Homo sapiens: one gene and its partners. The protein of the gene in region 1 purifies or fractionates together with the protein of each later gene. This does not show direct contact. Each region holds a gene or a part of one and is shown on either strand. Other genes may lie near its edges. The genes, in order: POLD3, POLD1 and POLA1.

Region 1 (7,400 bases):
TCCATATAGAAAACTATACATATCAAAAGTATATACCTCAAATCATTTTCACAAACTCAACACACCATGCAACCAGCACCAAGATCAAGAATATTACCTTCATCTCAAAAGCCTCCTCATACTCCCTTCCAGTTTCTACCCTCCCAAGGGTAACCACTAATCCAGCTAAGTCATTCAACCCTAATATTGGCAGGTCCATTGGGTTGGGCTGGGCACTCTAAACAGTGTGGTTGATATAGGAGTTAAGAAGAAATCACTTAGGCAGATAGTAAGGGTATAGAAGTCCATGGTAAGGCTTTTCTTTTTCATGAAAAGCAGCCCCAAATCATTTTCTAACAAAGACCAGCCTGTAAAGTTGAGCTTCAGACATAGACAAGCAAGCTGGGAGCTTGCACGGGTGAATGTGGGCAGGAACTAGGGACTAGACATGTTCAAGATGGCGACTCCATCATCCCTTCTCTGCCAGCCACATGTACAGTAAGGAGCAGACAAGATGGTGCCAGCCAAGGAGAGTTCATTTGCATCATAAGATCAGGGTGGGGATACCAGCCTTCACCCCTGGGCTATGTAAATGTCACACCTGATCGAAACAATCTGTGAGCCCTACATAAATCAGACACCGCCTCCTCAAGCTGGACTATAAAGTCCAGCGCATCTGCCACCATGATCACTAGGAGACCCCTCTCTCTATATATAAAGAGAACTGTTTCTCTTTCTCTTCTGCCTATTAAACCTCCGCTCCTAAACTCTTCGTGTGTGTTAGTGTCCTAAATTTTCCTGGTGCCAGACTACCAACCCCAGGGTATATAGCCCAGACAATGTAGCCACCTCATTGTCATCTGCTCCATTTGGCATAGGGATAAGTATCAAGACTCTTCCCTAGCTAATTATCTTGACTTACTTCCCACTCCTGTGGAGCACTGACAAGAGGCCTGAGTTCTGATCCCACAGCAACCACCTAATAATCCTGGAAAAATCTATTTCTCTCTGAGCCGCAACAATCCAGTCTCTAAAATATGGACAATGGCCAGGCACAGTGGGTCACACCTGTAATCCCAGCAGTTTGGGAGGCCGAAGTGGGCGGATCACTTGAGGTCAGAAATTTAAGACCAGCCTGACCAACAAGGCGAAACCCCCTCTCTACTAAAAATACAGTTGGGTGTGGTGGTGCATACCTGTGATCCCAGCTACTCAGGAGGTGGAGGCATGAGAATCGCATGAACCTGGGAGGCAGAGGTTGCAGTGAGTGGAGATCATGCCACTGCACTCCACCCTGGGCGACAGATCAAGACTCCATCTCAAAAAATAAAACAAAATAAATAAACAGGCTGGGCACGGTGGCTCACACCTATAATCCCAGCACTTTGGGAGGCTGAGGTGGGCGGATTGCCTGAGGTCGGGAGTTCGAGGCCAGCCTGACCAACATGGAGAAACCCTGTCTCTACTAAAAATACAAAATTAGCTGGGCATGGTGGTGCATGCCTGTAATCCCAGCTACTCGAGAAGCTGAGGCAGGAGAATCGCTTGAACCCGGGAGGCAGAGGTTGCAGTGAGCAGAGATTGCGCCATTGCACTCCAGCCTGGGCAACAGGAGCAAAACTCCGTCTCAAAATAAATAAATAAATAATAAAATAAAATATGGACAATATAATACATTTGCAGCATTGCTATGAGGACTAAATGAAATATTGCTCTTAAAGTACCTGGTATAGTAGGTCTGGTATATAATAACGTAATAGTCAACGATCATAGATTTTATTGTGTGCAGGTACTGCATGAGAGTTTTATGTATATTATCTCATTTGTAACTGGCCAAATAGAATTATTTGATTTTCTCATCTGCTTCCAGTCTTTCACGTCTCAGTCAAGGGCATCACCATTTACCTAAAGATTTATGTTCCATATCTAGGTATTTTCCTTGATTCCTGTTTTTTCCACACTCCACTCGTGTAATTCATCAGCAGGTTTTGCCGACTCTAAAACAAAACTCAAGTCACTCAGTTCTCTCAATTTCCACTACCACTACTCTATTTTAAAAAATGTATTGGTTTGGCGTTGTGGCTTACGCCTGTAATCCCAGCACTTTGGGAGGCCAAGGCAGGTGGATCACCTGAGGTCAGGAGTTCGAGACCAGCCTGGCCAACATGGCGAAACCCCCTCTCTACTAGAACTACAACAAAATTAGCCGGGTGTGGTGGCGCATGCCAGTAATCCCAGCAACTTGGGAGGCAGAGGCAGGAGAATCACTTGAACCCGGGAGGCAGAGGTTACAGTGAGCCGAGATCGCGCCATTGCACTCCAACCTGGGGAACAAGAGCAAAACTCTGTCTCAAAAAAAAAAAAAATTATTATTTTTTGAGACAGGGTCTCACTCTGTCACCCAGGCTGTATGCAGTGGCATGATCAAGTGCTCACTGCAACCTCTACCTCCTGGGCTCAATCCATCCTCCCACTTCAGAACTGGGACCACAGACCACAGACCACAGGCTCGTGCCACCATGGCTTTTTTTTTTTTTTTTTTTAGTAGGGACGGAGTTTCAGTATGTTGCTCAGGCTGGTCTCGAACTCCTGGGGCTCAAGTGATCCACTTGCCTTGGCCTCCCAAAGTGCTGGGATTATAGGTGTGAGCTACTGTGCCTGGCACTGCTACCCTATTTTATTTTATTTATTTATTTTGAGGGGGGTCTCACTCTGTTTCCCAGGCTGGAGTGCAGTGGCACCATCTCAGCTCACCGCAACCTCGGTCTCCCAGGTTCAAGTGATTCTGCTGCCTCAGCCTCCCGAGTAGCTGGGATTACAGGCGTGTACCACCACACCTGGTTAATTTTTGTATTTTTAGTAGAGACGGGGTTTCGCCATGTTTGCCAGGCTGGTCTCGAACTCCTGACCTCAGGTGATCTGCCTGCCTCGGCCTCCCAAAGTGTGGGATTACAGGTGTGAGCCACTGCGCCGAGCCATTTTATTTTATTTTTAGACGGAGTCTCTCTCTGTTTCCCAAGCTGAAGTGCAGTGGCATGATCTCGGCTCACTGCAACCTCCACCTCCTGGATTCAAGACATTCTCATGCCTCAGCCCTGGGAGTAACTGGGACTATAGGCACGTGCCACCACGCCCGGCTAATTTTTATATTTTTAGTAGAGACAGGGTTTCACCATGTGGGCCTGGCAGGCCTCGAACTCCTGACCTCAGGTGATTCATCCCCCTAGGCCTCCCAAAGTGCTGGGATTACAGGCGTTAGCCACCGCGCCCGGTCTGCTACCCTATTTTAAACCACCACTATCTTTCACTTAAAAATCTCAGAATGTAAGTTACATGTGAACAGGCTCGGTTTATTATTGCTCATAGCTGCAGCCCCAGCACCTCAACACTCAGAATAGTATCTGGCCTTTCTCAGGATTTTGCTATGCTTTGAATGAATGCATGTCGCGACAAGCCTTTGAAGTAGGTACTGTTATTATTCCCATTTTATAGATAAGGAAATAGGCTCCTAGTGGCTAAAGAATTACCTAAGTTTACACAACAAACAGCAAAACCAGGATTCAAACCCAGTAAGTCTGACTCTAGAGCCCACTCTCTTACGCACTACACCTGCGATACTGAACTGCACCGGCTTATGCTGAAGTCAATTATTAAAGATTTTTGCGGGGGTGATACTAGGAGAAATTTGAGTTGAAATTCCCCAACCTGATAACTTTTCTCCAAGTTTTCCTGAGAACACAGCTCAAGCGCCTCTTCACAGTCTCCTAGGCACAACGATTTGGTTTCTCCCAAGTCTCTCTCATCCGCCTCTTCTCCTAACAATCCAGAGATAATGAACTCTTTTCCAGCAAATTCTCCTGCTTCTATCCGAAACACTCAGCCTCTCCTCAACCCCTCTGGAAAAACCTTCCCTAATTTCTCAACTCTGAGGGATTATAACAGGCAGTACTTTTCCCCAGTTGGCAGCACTACTAAAATTACTTGTTTTCAATAGTCTCCCCTTTATCCTGGCTTTCCCGGGTTTCATCACGCGCAGCCAACCTCGGTAGGGAAATATTATACCCAATGACATCTGTTGAGAGACCATATTCACTAATGTTTATTACAGTATAATAATAATTGTTCTATTTTATCGTTAGTTATTTTTGTTAATCTCTTACTGTGCCTAATTTATAAATTAAACTTTATCATAGGTACGTAGGTATAGGAAAAAACCAGCCAGGAGGCCCCGCACTTCGGTGTTTTCTACTAGCTCTGCCTACCTCCGTCTGCGCCGTCTCCCTGACTAGTTTGACCCTTCGAGGGCCGCCGTAGTGCGTCGCCTCCGTTGCCGGGGAAACGACCCGGGACCTGGGAGGGAGCAAAGACGTTTCCCGCCGGCGGGAGCTGTGGCTGTGATTGAGAGAGGGGTTAGAGGCGGGTCCCAGCGCTGCCGCACCATGGCGGACCAGCTTTATCTGGAAAATATAGACGAGTTCGTCACGGACCAAAACAAGATCGTGAGCAGCTACTACTGGGGAACGCGGGCGTGCGACCGGGGTCCTGGGCCCGGCTAGGGCGGCGGGAGCCTTGACCCTCTGTCTGCTTGTGGCTTCGTGGGGACCAGGGGAGACAGGTCCCCACGAGGGGACCTGGGCGAGCTCTGTGCCCCAGAGCGAGCGAGGACTCGTCGGGAAGGTCCTCCAGCACACACGGAAGTCCGCGTCCCTTGGGTGGGCGTGCTGGGAACAGAGCCTGGGGCTGGAGCCGCGGAGACCGGGCGCGGAGGGAGGGCCGTTGGCTGAGAGTTCTAAGGCGTCCCTACACCTTTCTTTTAAGGTGGTTGGCGTTTAAAGTTTTAAGTTTACAGTTGAGGAAATCGTGTCTTAACTGTGTTAAGTTACAAGTTGCGTAACCTCCAGATACTGTTTCCTCTTCCTGGAAATTTAAGCATTGATAGAGGTTTGATCCGCTTCACACGGGTGAGGAAAAGATCGAGCGAATTGATGGATGTGAGTGCACTTTGCAAACCGTGATGATTGAGTGCCTGCTGTGTGCCAAGGCACTTTAATCTTTACAGTGACCTCCCCGCACCCCATCCCAGGTCGGTGGTGGTATCCCGAGATGAGGAAATTGAAGCTGAGGGGCCAAATAACTTGTTTATTTGCGTTTGGTAAGGGATAGGCAGTTTTTCAACCTAGGTCTGTCCTCTTACTAATGCTTTCTTCTACATCACACTGCCTTTGCCTAACCTGTGCAAGTCTTCTAACTATTGGAAGCTTGACATTTGGAATTGGAAGAGACTTTGAGAGAAGAGAGTGCAGGCATCCTGGGTCTAGGAGGGATGAAGGCTTGATGCTGGTAGTTCCCAATCTAATCTCTTATAAAAATATTTACCCACTTTTTTCGTTTCCTGACCCCTGCACCACCTGTGCCCTTTAATGTTTGCATGGGTGCAACTTTCTTTAGAAGTTTCTGAGACATCACACTTCAAAGTCATCTAGCTTCTGAATGAGTTTTAGGATGGCTTTGGCTGGTGGCCCCCAAAAAAAACATCATGAGGAAAGGGCCTGAGTAAAACAAGGAATGTGAGGAAAATGAGAGTTTTTTCTGTTAGGTATGTTCAGCTTGTCTTTTTAGATTACTTTTCATTAGTTCATGAAACAAACTTCTTAGCATTTTTAAGATAAATAGGTCCTGCCTACCCAGATAGATAGTTCTTGGGAAAACTGCAGTGGCATTTATTGTAATTTGTAAGGCATAATCATCTAAGAATAGGAATCTTTAGCAACAGACCTTCGGGACTGATGTGCACTCTGGAGTCATCTAATAAAACATTTGAAAAATTTTTTCTTGTTACAGGTGACATACAAATGGCTGAGCTATACACTAGGGGTTCATGTTAACCAGGCCAAACAGTAAGTCCAATTTACTACCAATTTTAATCATATTGGAATTTTTTTTTGTTTTGTTATGCTTTGCTTTTAACTCTACAGATAGCCTACATAGATTAGAGCTAATTTGGTTTGCTGGCAATCATTGGTATTTCTTGGCTTGTAGCTGCGTAATTCCAATCTCTGCCTTCATTGTCATGGCATTCTCCCTGTATATCTGTATCTTTGCACGTCCATCTTATATGAACACCAGTCATACTGAATTACGAATCCACCCTACTCCAATATGACCTTGTCTTAACTAATTACATGTGCTATAATTCTATTTCTAAATAAGGTCACATTTTAAGGTATTGGGGGTTAGGGCTTTAACATTACCTTTTTGGAGACATGATTCAGTCTGTAATATGGATACAACAAGTTTTGTTTATTCATCATTAATGGACATTTGGGTTATTTCCATATTTTGACTGCTATGAATGATGCTGTTATGAACATTCATGTATAAAACATTCATCTATAAGTGTTTATATGAACATATATTTTCAGTTATCTTGGGTATTTGTGTTAGTCCATTCTCATGCTGCTATGAAGACACACCTGAGATTGAATTTATAAAGACGAGGTTTAATTGACTCACAGTTCCGCATGGCTGGGGAGGCCTCAGGAGACTTGGCGGAAGGCATCTCTTCACAGGGTGGCAGGAGAGAGAATGAGTGTCGAGCGAAGGGGGAAGCCCCTTGTAAAACCGTCAGATTTCGTGAGAACTCACTATCATGAGAAGAGCATGGGGGAACTGCCCCCATAATTCAGTTATCTCCACCTGGTCCGTCTTTGACATGTGGGGATTATTACAATTCAAGTTGAGATTTGGGTGGGGACACAGCCAAACTAGGATTGGAATTGCTGGGTCATGAGATAATTCTGTATTTAACATTTTGAGGAACTGACAAACTATTTTTCAAAATGGCTGCGCTTCTTACAGTCCTAACAGTATATGAGTATTTCAGTTTCTCCACATTCTGGTTAACACTAACACTGTTTTTTCCCTCAGACTTCTCATGGATGAACTCTTTTTTTTTTTTTTTTTTTTTTTTGAGATGGGGTTTCACTATGTTGCCCAGGCTGGATTTGAACTCAAGGATCCTCCCGCCTCAGCCTACCAACTAGCTCTACAGGTGTACATCACCACACCTGGCAAAAACTTTTTATTATGTCTTATTTTAACCATCCTAGTGGATGTGAAGTGGTATCTCATAAATTATGTTGATTGGCATTTTCCTAATGACTAATGTTGCTGAATATCTTTTCATATGCTGCTTGGCCATATCTTTGGAGAAATAGATATTCAAAATTATGCCCATTTTTGTCATTGGGTATTTTTGGTTGTTGTTGAGTTTTAAGAGTTCTTTATATATTCTGAATACAAGACCCTGATTGAAAAATTATTTGCAAAAATTTTCTCCCATTCTGTGGATTGTCTTTGTACTTTCTTGATGGTGTGCTTTGAAGCACAGACATTTTTTGTTGTTGTTGTTGTTTGAGACA
Region 2 (7,107 bases), on another chromosome or scaffold:
TGCCTCCACGGGTCTCAGGGCTGGAGACCAGGATGAGCTCTTAGGGCTGAGGCTCAGGGCAGAGAGGGGCCCTTCCTACCATAGGCTGCAGAGTGGCAGAGGCAGGGCCTGAACCCACAGCTGCCCAAGCCGACTCTTTCCACTGCTTCACCACCGAGGAAGAGCTGGGCCTGACACCTGTGTTCCCAGAGGAGGAGGGGCTGGGGGTCTGGACTCTTGTATCTAAGAGAGGAAGGGGCTGGGGGCCCTGACCCCGGGATCTGAGGAGGAGGGGGCTGGGGGCCTGGACCCGTGGGTCTGAGGGAGGAGGGGCTGGGGCCTAGACTCCTGGGTCTGAGGGAGGAGGGGTTTGGGGCCCAGCCCCCTGAGTCTGAGGGAGGAGGCCCCACACACCGGTCGATGAGCAGGCGGCGCAGTGAGGCAGTGACCAGGTTGGCCACGAGGGGGCAGTTGTCCCTGCGCACGGCCTCCAGGCCCTTGCAGTCCATGCGGTCGTGGGCGTCGGGCCGGGAGGAGAAGAGCAGGCCCGCGTAGCGCTTCTTGCTGATAAGCAGGTATGGGAAGTAGACCTGGGAGGGAGCCATGGCCAAGACCCTGAGCCTGAGGAGGCCAAGCCCCAATCTGGAGACGCCCCCCAGAAACTGAAGGTAGACAGGGTCCCAGACGCAGTTTGAGGACATGGGAGCCGTGCCCTGAGCCTGGTGGGATGGACCGAGACACTGTATGGCTGGAAGTGGCTCCTGAGGCCCCTCGGCAATGCCAGAGCCCCCACACCAGAGACCCCAATCTGAAACAGAGACTGGGATAAATCCAGATAGTCCCTAAAACATGAGATCCAGACAGGCGAGTCGATGAAGCATCCCATGAAAGAGAGGAGAAACTACGGCTGGGTGAGCCCTGAGGCAGAGACCTCCCCACTCTGCGAGGCTCCAAGTCCAAGGCCTGGCACGAGAGAGCGTTAAGCCACGGGGAAACAGTACAGTGTGAGAACTGGGCGTGGCGGCTCAGGAGGCCAAGGCGGGAGGATCGCCGGAGCCCAGGAGTTGGAGGCTGCAGTGAGCTGTGAACTCGCCACTGCACTCCAGCCTGGGCGACAGAGCGAGACCCAGACTCTTCAAAAGAAAATATGGTGCAAGGTTTCCTGGGACCAAGTGTGCCGCACTCAGAGGGCCAGGGGCAATGGTGCACAGATCTAAGGTGCACCCCCATCAGGGTCCCTGCGTGGAGGGCAGCTCCACATCTGACAGGTACTGGGAAACCTCAAAACCAGGGACACTGTGACACCTCAAAACCAGGGACAGCGACAGGGTTTTCAAAGAACAGATGCCATCCAGGGTAACAAAGCCCAAGGCCTTGGAGGCTTCCCAAACCAAGGCCCCAGCCTCAGGAGAATCTAAGCAGCAACATCCCTTCACACTGTGGCTTTTGTGAACCCAAAGAACGGGACACCCTGAGTACCCTGATGAGGGCACCTAAATGCAGAGCCCCTGACCCAGCCACGCACCTTCTCAAACTCCAGCCGGATGGGCGACGGGAAGTGACCTGACACCCAGTCCGCGGCCTCCCGCCCCAGGGCCATCGCCTCAGCCACCGAGGACACGCCGAATCGGCACATGACGGAGTCAGTGTCACCATACACCACCTGCGGGCGGTGGGGATGTGTGTATGTGAGAAGCAGGGTCCCTTCTGTCAACTACTGGTGTCGGGGGGTGGCAGGTGGCTAATGCCAACGGGACCCAAGGATGCAACAGGAGAGTGGGCAGGGTGTGACCAGGAGGCACGGGGACATGGGGGTCCGGCCCGGCTTCCATCCCCCCACCTGCCCTGGGCCCATCTCAGGGCAGCGGTGGGCAGCCCCCGACCTTGGCACTGGTGCTGTAGCCATTCTCCACTGTGTACTTAGACTCCACCAGCTGCTTGGTTTTCTCGATCATCTGACGTCCGAACCCCGTGACGCTCTGTCGGGGAGAGAATCATGCGGAGTGAAGCCCTGGGGGCCATGTGCAGTGAACGTGGGCCGGCGGGGGAGGGGTCCCGCCTCTGCCATTTCCCAGTGGCATAGGCTTATGTACAAGCCACTCTGCCCCTCCTGGGCCTCAGTTCCCAAATCTGCAAAATGGGACTATAAGGCGGCTCCTCAATGGTCAGGTGGAAAGAAGTGGGTTCCCTGGCTCAGAGTTCTGGACATGCACAAGGAAGTGACTACATCAAATGCATGCTGGAAAGACTGCGGCCTGAAGAGGCCACTGGCCCAGTGTTTCCCTCACACTGACATTCTGGGCAGCTCTCTATGGTACAGGACCACCGACATAGCCAGCCCCATCCCTGGAAGCCAGCAGTGCCACCCCCATCCCTGTACCACCAGAACTGGCCCTACCTACACATTGACAAATGCCCCCCAGAGCAGGGGGTGGCACCACCCTGACTAAGAAACCATTGAGAAACCCACTGTCTTATTTTAGAGTTAAGAAAACTAGCTGGCGTGGTGGCTTATGCCTGTACACCCAGCACTTTGGGAGGCTGAAGTGGCTGGATCACTTGAGGTCAGGAGTTCGAGATCAGCCTGGACAACATGGTGAAACACCATCTCTACTAAAAATACACACACACACACACACAAAACTAAAAAATACTTAAACAACAACACCACCACCACCACCACCACCACCAAACCTGAGGCTGGGGGTGGGGACACCAAGGAGAGATGGGTGTGATTCTTCTGTTTTTGTTTGTGTGGATCCAGTCAGGAAATCTGTCTAACTAGAGCATTTTGTCCATTTACATTTAGTGTAATTACTGATATAGCTGGGCTTACGTCTACCACTTTACTGTCTAGCTTTTACTTGTTCCACCTGTCCTATGTTCCTTTTTCTTTCCTTTGTAATCTTTTCCTGAAATGATTCAATTTTTTTTTTTTTTTAAGAGACAGGAGGCCAAGCGTGGTGACTCACACCAGTAATCCCAGCACTTTGGGAGGCCGAGGCAGGTGGATCACCTGAGGTCAGGAGTTCAAGACCAGCCTGGCCAACATGGTGAAACCCCGTCTCTACTAAAAATGCAAAAATTAGCCAGGCATGGTGGCGGGTGCCTGTAATCCCAGCTACTCAGGAGGCTGAGGCAGGAGAATCACTTGAACCCGGGAGGGAGAGGTCGCAGTGAGCCAAGATTGTGGCATTGCACTCCAGCCTGGGTGACAGAGCAAGACTCCATCTCAAAACAAACAAACAAAAACTAAAAGAGACAGGGTCTCAACTCTGTCACCCAGAATGGAGTGCAGTGATGCCATCACAGCTTACTGTAACTCAAACTGCTGGGTTCAAGCCATCTTCCCGTCTCAGCCTCCTGAGTAGCTGCAACTACAGGCATGAGCTACCACAATGCCTGGCTAGTTTTGTTTGGTTGTATTTTTTGTAGAGATGGGGTTTCACTATGTTGCCCAGGCTGGTCTTAAACCCCTGGCCTCAAGTGATCCTCCCTCCTCAGTGTCACAAAGTGTTGGGATTACAGGCGTGAACACTGTAATTCATTACTTTTTTTTTTTTTTGAGACGGAGTTTTGCTCTGTTGCCCAGGCTGGAGCGCACTGGCGCAATCTCGGCTCACTGCAACCTCTGCCTCCTGGGTTCAAGCGATTCTCCTGCCTCAGCCTCCCGAGTAGCTGGGATTAGAGGCACCTGCCACCACTCCTGGCTAATGTTTTGTATTTTTAATAGAGACAGGGTTTCACCATGTTGGCCAGGCTGGTCTTGAACTCCTGACCTCGTGATCCGCCCGCCTCGGCCTCCTAAAGTGCTGGGGTTACAGGCGTGAGCCACCGCGCCCAGCCAATTCATTGCATTTTTATTATTCCACCTCTTGCTCCCATAAGCTTGAGAGACAGAAATAAGGAAAGAGGTCAAGAGACAGAAACAGAACAGTGACAGAGGGAAGCGGCTGAGAGAGAAAAGACAGAGACACAGGATTGGTAAGAGGCAGCCCCAGGGGAGGGCCAAGCTGTGCTCTCTTGGCCTGGCCTCTGCTTCAGGGCTAGAGCCTGATGTCCACACAGCCACCCCTTTCCACCAAGGAGGCTGGGGAGGCAGCCGGGGACTGTGAAAGGCAGAGGGGAGTTGGGAGCATGCAGTGAGCGATTCACTTTGTGCAAAGAAAGGTCTGGCTCTTGCCTGGCTCCTGGTAGTCTAAGCCCCTAGAATATCCCGCCTGATAACAGTGTCTCTGTTCCAGCCTGGGCAACATGGCGAGACCCTATCTCTACAAAAAATAACAAAAATAGGTGGCACGTGCCCGCAGTCCCAGCCACTTGGGAGGCTAACGTGGGAGGCTCACCTGAGTCCCGGAGGTTGAGGCTGCAGTGAGCCACGATTGTGCCACTGCGCTCCAGCCTGGGTGAGAGAGTGAGACTCTGTCTCAAAAAAAAAAAAAAAAAAGGTGTTTGTGTACCTGGGACTTTGAACCACACCAGGTAGTTGACACTAACATGGTTTATGGTAGGGCCCTGGGCCATGCAGTATCAGTTTGACCTCTGGGGGTTGCTGAGGGGCCTGGGGATGATGGAGTCACTAAGGCCAGTCACAGGGTGCTCCATGCCTATAGGACTGACACCCAAGAAAAACCCTGGACCCCAAAGCTTGGGTGAGAGCCTCTGGTTGGCAATGCTGCATGTGTGCAGGCACGCATCAAAACTGGGAGGAAGGAGGGCCAGCCTGGCAACTCTACTGGGAGAGCACAACTGGAAGACACGCCTGGTCCCTCCTATACCCTGCCCTGTGCACCTCTTTCTTTTGCTGAGTTTAATCTGTGTCCTTTTGCTGTATTAAATCATAACCATGAGAACCAGCTTTTCTGCTCTCTGAGTACTTCTAGTGAATCACTGAACCTAAGTGGTCTTTGGGACCCCCAGAACTGCGGGTGGGTGGGTGTGTGCAAAGGCCCCACCCACTGAGAATTCATCCAAGCCTTCCACCCAGAGCCCTGTGAAAAGTGGCGCAGTGCCCAGCCAGAGAGGGAGCTCCCCGTGGCTAGAGGTAACCAAGCAGAGCAGCACAACTACTGGCCTGGAATGGGCCAAGACTCAAGTCCCAGGGGAGAAGGCTGGACAGGAAGACCCTTCCGAGGCCCTCATATGCCAGGAGCTGGGGCACTGACCCCAGCTTGGCAATCTCGGAAACTCAGGCCCTCTGTGGTTTCAAAGAATCTGTTTTTCTGTTCAAGCAGCAGAGCTGCCGTGGGTAGGCAGACCGGGACGCTGCCGTGGGGACGGTGAATGGCTTCCCTCCCCACGTCCCTTGGCCTCTGTGTGAGCGTCGCCTATTGAGAGGGGTGAGTCCCGCCCAGCCCCATCACTCCCCGACAGTCCGCACCTCCTGCTTTATCCGGCTGCAAAGCTCGTAGCGCCACTTGTGTCCTAAACACGTTTACACAGACCTGTCAGTGTCCCCACTGGGCTGCAAGATGACAGGGACAGGAGCTCTCATCCATTTTGTTCCCCTCTGTATCCCCAGGGCACAGAGTGAGCCCTGACCACAGTGTGTGCTCAGTAGGCATTTGCTGAGTGAAGGAATGGACCAATTGCTCAAGCCACATTGGCATCCTCTCTCTAGAAGGCCAGTGAGTTGGGGTGCCCAGTCCTCTGGATACAGGTCCCCCACATGGAGCCCTGGTCTCCTACACAGGGGGCCCACCTGCCCCCAGTTGCCTTCCAGGGGCCCGAGTGCCCACCTGTGAGATCTCCAGGCACGGCAACTTGCCCACCTGGGCGCCAGTGAAGCCGTATACGGAGTTGGCGCTCACCTTCAGCGCCAGCTGCCGTCCATCCAGGACCTGGCGCCGGAGGGGGTCTGTCTCCTTGGCCAGCTCGGCCTTGGCCCTGCGAGGGAACACGGGGAAAGCACACTCAGGCGGCACCTGGGCATTGGTCAGGGCTCCTTTCTGGAAGTGAGTGCCATGTACGGTTGGGCGTACTGTGCACTGCACAGAAGCTTCTGGCCAAGGGGGCAAAAGGAAGCTGCCAGGAGGGGATGCCTTGTGCTAATTCACGCACAGCTGAGGGCAGGGTGGCTGGGCAGCCCTGGGGTGTCCCAGTGAGGGACAGGGATTGCCCAGAGGCCCCAACAGGTCTGAGCTCCAAGCAGGCGATCTCCAGGGCTCACCTCTTCCGGGCACTGAGCAGGTTCTCCAGGATCTGGGGCAGCAGCCCCTTCCGCACTGAGGTCTTCACAAACTCGTCCCCGGTGGGGGTCCTGATGAACTGATCCTCAGTCAGGCTGGGTTGGAAGATGTTGGGGTGACTGCCGGCCACCCTCCTGCTCCAGCCCACCTCTGCCCTACGGTCCTGGCCTTGGCCATGAGCACACGCAGGCCCCTCAAGCACCCCTCCACTCCCTACTATCTCTGGGCCTGTGCCTATGCCCCCCACCAGACTGAGCCCCCCAAGGGAAGGCCCAGATGGGCCTCGGGGGACACATGCTGAATTGGGCACTATACCCCAGTTTCTGTGCAGTCCCGGGCCGAAGGAGCGTGGTGTAACACAGGTTGTGGGCCATCATGATGGACGGGTACAGCGAGGAGAAGTCCAGGGTGGCGATGGGGACGTCGTAGTACCTGGGAGGGGAGCAGCCGCGGCCGGGAGTCAGGGCTAGGAGTTCCCATGCCGCCCCCGCCCTGTCTTGTGGCCTCACCCTTTAAAAAAAAAAAATCATTCATTGGCTGGGAGCAGTGCTCGCTCCTGCAATCCCAGCACATTGGGAGGCTGAGGCAGGAGGATCGCTTGAACTCAGGAGTTTCAGATCAGCCTGGGCAACATGGCAAAACCCTATCTCTACAAAAAAATTTTAAAAATTAGCCAGGTGTGGTGGTGCACGCCTGTGGTCCCAGCTACTCAGGGGCCTGAGGCAGGAGGATTGCTTGAGCCTAGGAGGTGGAGTAAGCCAAGATCATGCCACCGCACTCCACCCTGGGTGACAGAGTGAGACCCTGTGTCAAAAAAAGAAAAAGAAAAAGAAAAATAATATATATAATTAATCTACTATTTTATTTTATTTTATTTTTTTTGAGACGGAGTCTCGCTTTGTCACCCAGGCTGGAGTGCAGTGGCGCAATCTCAGCTCAC
Region 3 (7,107 bases), on another chromosome or scaffold:
ACCTTTTTCGTAATGTTCTCTAGAGGATTCTGCCACTACAGATCAAAGTTGGGGCCACTGCTCTTGCTTCTTTTCTTATTCATATCTTTAAGGTGGTAGAGTTGTTATTAGCACTTCATCTGAACACTTGCTTAGCTTTTTACCCCCTTCAAGATTTTCTTTATGTGGCATCTTCTCAGTGAGGTATACCCCATTACCCTATTTAAGATGGCAGTCCCCCCGTATTCCTTGTACCCCTCACCCTGCTGTTTTCCCATTTTCCATCCACTTGTTACCTCCTAAAACTATATAATTTCTTGTTTATGATGTCTGTTTTTTATTATACATTTCAAATGAGGCCAGGAATCCTTTCTGTTTTGATCACTGCTGTATCCTGAGTGCCTAGAATAATGTCAGATACATAGTAAATGTTCAAAAATATTTGATTGATGTATGGAAGAATGAGAGTTTTATCATAATTTTGGGCCAGCTTCAAAATAGGTTAGAAAGAAATGTTCTCAGTGTCTGCTCTTTCATGAAGTTTGCTTTTTGTTCCCATCTTGTAGGGCCGGAGTGGATTTGGTGAAAGAAATGCTACCTGTGGTCGAATGATCTGTGATGTGGAAATTTCAGCAAAGGAATTGATTCGTTGTAAAAGCTACCATCTGTCTGAACTTGTTCAGCAGATTCTAAAAACTGAAAGGGTTGTAATCCCAATGGAAAATATACAAAATATGTACAGGTATGATCCTAGATTCTTCAGAATTCATCTGTCTTGAAATTAACAACAGCAGGACACTACTAGTACTATCCTTAGTCTGGAGGGACATGAGCCAGTGGTGTTGTAGAGGGGAAATTGTCTCTACTACTTTCATAATTTGAACTAGTTTACCTCTTGAATTATTGTAATTGATCAGTTTATCTCCGTCTCCCTCACCTGTGTTAACACTATCTTGATGTTTCCTAACAGTAGTTTGGATTTAGATTTCTACTCTTAATTCATTTATTCAGGAATTAGGGTAGATATTTTAGAAATATAAAAACTGAGCAATCATTAAGTTAGAGGTATTGCTTGCTTATTTCTTCCTCCTACTCCTCTGGCCATCTCTCATTCATTCCTGCTAGTTCTTCCTGAGTTCTTTCTTGGACTTCTCTTTTCTGACTTTGTTCTTTCTCTAGGTGATCTCATTGAGTCTTAGGAATTTAAATACCATGGGATGGCTATGCTTCCCACCTGTGTATCTTCAGGTTAGACCTCCCTAAATTCCACACTCAGTGTATCTGTTTTACCTATTTTACTTGATATCTAATGTGAACTCCCAGCTTGTTCAAAATTGAGCTCTGATCTTCTATCCTAGGTTCTTCCTATAGTCTTTCCTTACTAAATTAATAGGTGTATTTTTTCCATTATCACTGGAAACTTCCAGAGTCTTACTTAGCCCCACATGTCTGAGGCATCTTTAATTCCTCTCTCTGATATCCCACAGTAGATGCATCAGGGTATCCTATCAGTTCTATCTTCTAAATAGATCTAAGTCTGACCACTTCTTTTCAACTGCATTGGACCCATCCTATCCAAGCTGCTATCCTCTTTCCCCTGGATTACTGGGTTTATATGCCTATCCCCTTACTTTTGCCCTTACCCCCTTGTGGTCGATTCTCAATCCAGAATCAGAGTTATCCTGCTAAAATCAAGTCAGATGTGATACTCTGCTCAGAACCTTCCAGTGACTCTCTGTTTCATTCAGAGTAAAAACTAAAGTCCTTATTTTTACTTACAAGGTCCTTTACAATGTGTCTCTATGTCGTTAACTCTGTCCTTATCTCGTACTGCTCTTTCCATCATTCTCTCTGATCTAGCCATATTGGCCTCTTTCCTAGTCCTGGAACTGTCAGATTTGCACGCAGCTCAGGACTTTTGAATGTGCTATCCTGTCTGCCTGGAATGCTCTTTCCATAAGGCTTGCTCCCTCACCTCTTCAAGATCTTCATTCTCAGTAAAATCTTCCACTGTTTCCTAACAAAAATTTCAGTCTCTGCTTCTGATACTTAATATTCCCGTTGCTTAACTTTTAACATTATATAACATACTATATACTTAATTTCTTTGTTTTTTTTTATACTCTGTCTCCCCCGTGAGGACATAAGCTCCAGGAGGATAGGAAGTTTTGTTTGTTTTGGTCACAGCCAATGCCTGGCATATAGTAAGCATGCAATACATACTCACTGGATGGAATGAATGAAAGGATTTAGGTAGTTTTCAGGCTTGTAGTTATTATATTACTTCAGTTTTTCCTTATGGGATTTTGTGTGTGTGTGTGTGTGTGTGTGTGTGTGTGCGCGCGTGTGTGTGTGTGTGTGTTTTGGAGAAAAGCATTGGGATCAGTGGTATGAATGAATTCCTAGTTACATACTGACCTTATTTTAAATTGTTTCTGAAGCCAAGGTGCTGTTGCTCTGAATTTACTTACACCCAGAATTCCTTATAATATTTTGTGAAGTTCTGATTATAGGCATTGTTTCTTTTAATTACTTGATTCTGTTTCATTCTTACTTTTCTGTACAGTGAATCTTCTCAACTGTTATACCTGTTGGAACACACCTGGAAAGATGCCAAGTTCATTTTGCAGATCATGTGTGAGCTAAATGTTCTTCCATTAGCATTGCAGATCACTAACATCGCTGGGAACATTATGGTAAATTTAACTTAGAAAGGGGGAAAAAGCATTTCCTGTTGGATTCAGTGTTTGCTTGGGGTAGTTGTTATATGATAATGAGTCTAAATGCATGCTTATAAAATGAGTAACTTGGATTCTGAAAGCTGGATTTCTTTTGTAAAAGGAAGAACTGGTTGGGAGAAGGGGAGGAATGCCAGGTGCAGCGTGTTGAAATTTGGGTGAACATACGGATCATCTCTCTAACATCTGGATGTGTCTTTTTAGTGGAATGGTCCATTTGGGAGTAAATAAATAGCCAAGTTGTCAATATTTTAAGCTCTCTTTGTCTCCTTTAGCTATAATGCTTAAAGAAAACGTTAGGAATAATTTAGTACCTTTTTTTTTTTTAAAAAAAAAGCAGACCGTTATTAGGAATAGTTTTGAAGGAGGTGCTGTGACTAAACTTACTGACTCAAAGTTGCTTTTGTTAGTTGTGGTTTTGAGCTCAAATTTAAAAAATAAATTCCATTTAATAGTCCAGGACGCTGATGGGTGGACGATCCGAGCGTAACGAGTTCTTGTTGCTTCATGCATTTTACGAAAACAACTATATTGTGCCTGACAAGCAGATTTTCAGAAAGCCTCAGCAAAAACTGGTGGGTCCAAAACTGTGTAGTATTTTGTTTTCTCTTAACCCCCCCCCCCCTTTTAATACCTAGATAGCCTTTTTTTTCTGTGATAACATCTGCTTTCAAAATAGCTAATCCCTTGTGTACTAAAGAAACCGTGTCAAGTTTATTCCCTTGTTTTTGTGTGGTCATTTCCTTTTCCACTTTGTAAAAGGAAAATGCACTTTGTGCAGACAAAATTATTTGTGAAATGTGAAATTCTTTGAGGGAAGCATTAGACCTCTCTGATGGGTGACCATACATGGAATGTGTTCTGGCACCTCAGCCCTATCCAAAGATAAATGCCAGTTAAACTTTTTATTTTCTTAAACCTATGAGCCTTTATTTTTGTGTTGCATTTTTCTGTACTAGTATGACCAAGGTCACCCACAGTCAGGTTTCTGAAGTAGCCTCCATCACTTTGGAACTAAAACTTAGTTTAGCTACTGTTTTATTAGCACTGATATTAATTAATTCAGAAATGGGAATTGAATGTTAGAATTTGATTCAGGTTCTCATATTTGCTTGTTTTTTAATGTACATTATCAAAATTGGTATAGGGCATATTCATTTAGAGGACTTTAACTTCTGCTGAGGTATTGAATGTTGGCCAGTAATAAACTACTTAGGAATGGATTTTCAGTATATGGATGTACTTGTTTTATGGTGTCCATATTAATAATAGGGATAATGATAATACCTGCATGAAGTATTTTATGTTTTTACATCACGAATGTTAGAGTAGTGATTTTAAGAGGGCTGTTTTATAATCTCAAATTTTATATAACATGAAAAGTGGTATTTTTCAATATTCATTGATTTAAAAATATGAAATTCTGTAAATTCAAAAACACATAAAAATAGAATTTTCATATTTGTTAACTCAGGATATAGTATTTGTTTAAGAAATTACTATGCTTGGGATTCATTTGGATTCGTGAACATATTACAATAACTGTCTTTCCCAACAGATAGGACCACTAACTGAAATGTTTGTTAGAACTAAGTCCTGCAATTGGAAAAGAGAGAATCATCAAAATTTTAAATTAGTTAATTAGTTGCTGGCTGGTGAAGTTATCTTTCCATTTGATATTAGGGAGATGAAGATGAAGAAATTGATGGAGATACCAATAAATACAAGAAAGGACGTAAGAAAGCAGCTTATGCTGGAGGCTTGGTTTTGGACCCCAAAGTTGGTAAGGCTGGGCAGTGAATTGGTTTTCTCCCAGTATTAAGGAATTTCTTAATGTGGATCTAGGCTTGAGAAACTAGAAGACTGAATTATATCTTATAGATCAGCGAATAGGTCTCATGACTTTTATCTTTCGTTCACGTGAAAATCTTGGTTGCCAGTCACCTGACATAGACTTAATGTGAATTTTGTTATGCTGTGTTCCAATAAAATATTATTTATAGACATTGAAATTTAAATTTCATATAGTTTTCATATGTCATGAAATATTGTTTTTGATTTTTTTCCAGCCATTTAAAAATGTAAAAACCATACTTAAGCTCATGGGTGGTACAAAAATAAGTAGGTTGGATTTGGTCTGTAGCCGTAGTTTGTCTAATACATAGATAGCTGTCCAGTACATAGATAGCTGTTTGTCCTGACCAGTTCAGTTGACAGCAAAGTTGAAGGACGTGCAGACAATAACCACCAAATTTAACTTTAATAGGAGAATATCTTTTTCCCTATTGTCATGAATGGCAAAGATGTTTTGTGGTACACAGAGCTAGAAATAATTTTTTTTTCTTTTTTTCTTTTTTTTTTTTGGAGACAGAGTTTTACTCTGTTGCCCGGGCTGGAGTGCAGTGGTGCGATCTCTACTCACTGCAACCTTCACCTCTTGGGTTCAAGCGATTCTCCTGCCTTAGCCTCCTGAGTAGCTAGGACTACAGGTGTGTGCCAGCATACCCAGCTAATTTTTTTGTATATATAAAAAAACATTTCAACCCTTCCCAAGTGTACAGTTCAGCAGTAGTGTTAAGAATATTCACATTGCTGTGAAGGAATTAATGTGAATTTTATCTAATAAGTTAGTTCTGAGTAGGAAACATTTTTGACAAAAGTGATTTTGTTATTAGTTATAATGAAATGGAGCAGTAGTACTTGGTGTTATGTAGGTCTGGGTTTGAATTCAGTGTGATCTTGGGCTGCCTGTTTAACCTCTGTAAGCCTCAGTTTCTTCTGTAAAATAGAGTTAAGAGTAATATCTACCACACAGGGATTTAAGGATAAATTAGTATAGTGCTGGACACAGAATAAACTATCCTATATGTTTGCAATTATTATTGTCTTAATAGTGGACATTTATTTTTATTCAGTTTCTTCTCAAGGTGAAGATAACTCTTTGTAAATGTCCTACAGAAATATAGTAGCTTTCTGTTCTTCCTTTGCAAGTAAAAAGGGTGGGTCGTTCCACTACTGACATTTATATATATGTGTCTCTTGTTTGATTTTAGCTCAGTTTTTGTACAGGTAAATGTGCCGTCCATTTTATTTTTTGAAGCTGTTGTAAAAGAATAAATTACTCTACCAGGCGCGGTGGCTCACGCCTGTAATTTCAGCACTTTGGGAGGCTGAGGCAGGCAGATCACGAGGTCAGGAGATCGAGACCGTCCTGGCCAACATGGTGAAGCCCCATCTCTACTAAAATATAAAAAATTAGCCGAGCACGGTGTTGCGCGCCTGTAGTCCCAGCTATTCGGGAGGCTGAGGCAAGGGGACTCACTTGAACCCGGGAGGCAGAGGTTGCGGTGAGCTGAGATTGCGCCATGGCACTCCATCCTGGAGACAGAGTGAGACTCTGACTCAAAAAAAAAAATAAAAATAAAAATAAACCACTCACTTGGTTTTATTTGGGGTGGGGGGTGGGAGAGTAGGTAGGAGGATTCTTCAAAGAATTCTTGCTTTGAAGGAGAGTTGAACATTTTTTTTTTTTTAATGGATGTGACACGTCTCAGATAGCTGATTGGGAAGGTATTTGCTCATAATAATGGTGTGCTTTGGGGACAGCTGGGGAAAGGACTGGTTGTAGCTGGTTCTAAAGAGAGACAGGATCTTTTTCTCCCTCTTCTTTTGTGATCTGGCTTTTCACTAATCCGCATCATTTTATGAAATGGTAGTTGATTCTTTTTTTCCCTTTTTGTCTGTTTCACAGCTCTGGGTAGTGTATATGGATAGTATATAGTTTCTAATATACTTACAGTGCTTTTAATAATGATGTTTTGACAATTCTGCTTTTCTTTAGACTTTTTATGACGTGGCTTTTTAATTTCAGGTTTTTATGATAAGTTCATTTTGCTTCTGGACTTCAACAGTCTATATCCTTCCATCATTCAGGAATTTAACATTTGTTTTACAACAGTACAAAGAGTTGCTTCAGAGGCACAGAAAGTTACAGAGGTTTGTATTTAACCTGGGACTCTTGAAATTGAGTTTAAAAAAATTGCTTAAAGAAGGAAGATCTGTGTCTTTTTAAAATAGTTTTATTGTGGTATTATTCATATACCATATACTTCACCTGTTTGAAGTGTGTAGTTCAGTGGCTTTTAGTGTATTCCCAGAGTTTGCAACCATCATCACAATGAGTTTTAGGATATTTTCATTATTCCCCAAAGAAACCTTTTAGCTGTCACCTCCCTCAATCCCCATCCCTTCCACCTCTAGGCAACTACTAATCTTTTTGCTTTTATAGATTTGTGTATTCTGGACGTCTCATATAAATAGAATCATACATTATATGGCCTTTCGGTATCTGGCTTATTTCACTTATAATGTTTTCAAGGTTCATCCATTT

What was found.
Region 2: the proteins of POLD3 (region 1) and POLD1 purify together in Homo sapiens (co-immunoprecipitation; 8 studies listed by BioGRID and IntAct, with this or other methods). This does not show direct contact.
Region 3: the proteins of POLD3 (region 1) and POLA1 fractionate together in Homo sapiens (co-fractionation; 2 studies listed by BioGRID). This does not show direct contact.

What each region holds. Positions count from the first base shown.
Region 1 is NC_000011.10:74,588,241-74,595,640, forward strand, and holds the start of POLD3 (DNA polymerase delta subunit 3), read left to right. Parts: upstream 1-4,341; 5' UTR 4,342-4,418; coding exon 4,419-4,478; exon of another isoform or gene 4,479-4,964; coding exon of another isoform or gene 4,965-4,970; intron 4,971-5,820; coding exon 5,821-5,876; intron 5,877-7,400. UniProt on the Homo sapiens protein: Accessory component of both the DNA polymerase delta complex and the DNA polymerase zeta complex.
Region 2 is NC_000019.10:50,408,277-50,415,383, reverse strand, and holds part of POLD1 (DNA polymerase delta catalytic subunit), read right to left. Parts: intron 6,678-7,107; coding exon of another isoform or gene 6,600-6,677; coding exon 6,483-6,599; intron 6,263-6,482; coding exon 6,149-6,262; intron 5,866-6,148; coding exon 5,718-5,865; intron 5,444-5,717; exon of another isoform or gene 5,360-5,443; intron 1,959-5,359; coding exon 1,863-1,958; intron 1,643-1,862; coding exon 1,505-1,642; intron 570-1,504; coding exon 394-569; intron 1-393. UniProt on the Homo sapiens protein: As the catalytic component of the trimeric (Pol-delta3 complex) and tetrameric DNA polymerase delta complexes (Pol-delta4 complex), plays a crucial role in high fidelity genome replication, including in lagging strand synthesis, and repair.
Region 3 is NC_000023.11:24,738,830-24,745,936, forward strand, and holds part of POLA1 (DNA polymerase alpha catalytic subunit), read left to right. Parts: intron 1-545; coding exon 546-721; intron 722-2,545; coding exon 2,546-2,675; intron 2,676-3,172; coding exon 3,173-3,292; intron 3,293-4,400; coding exon 4,401-4,500; intron 4,501-5,611; exon of another isoform or gene 5,612-5,741; intron 5,742-5,770; exon of another isoform or gene 5,771-6,064; intron 6,065-6,588; coding exon 6,589-6,713; intron 6,714-7,107. UniProt on the Homo sapiens protein: Catalytic subunit of the DNA polymerase alpha complex (also known as the alpha DNA polymerase-primase complex) which plays an essential role in the initiation of DNA synthesis.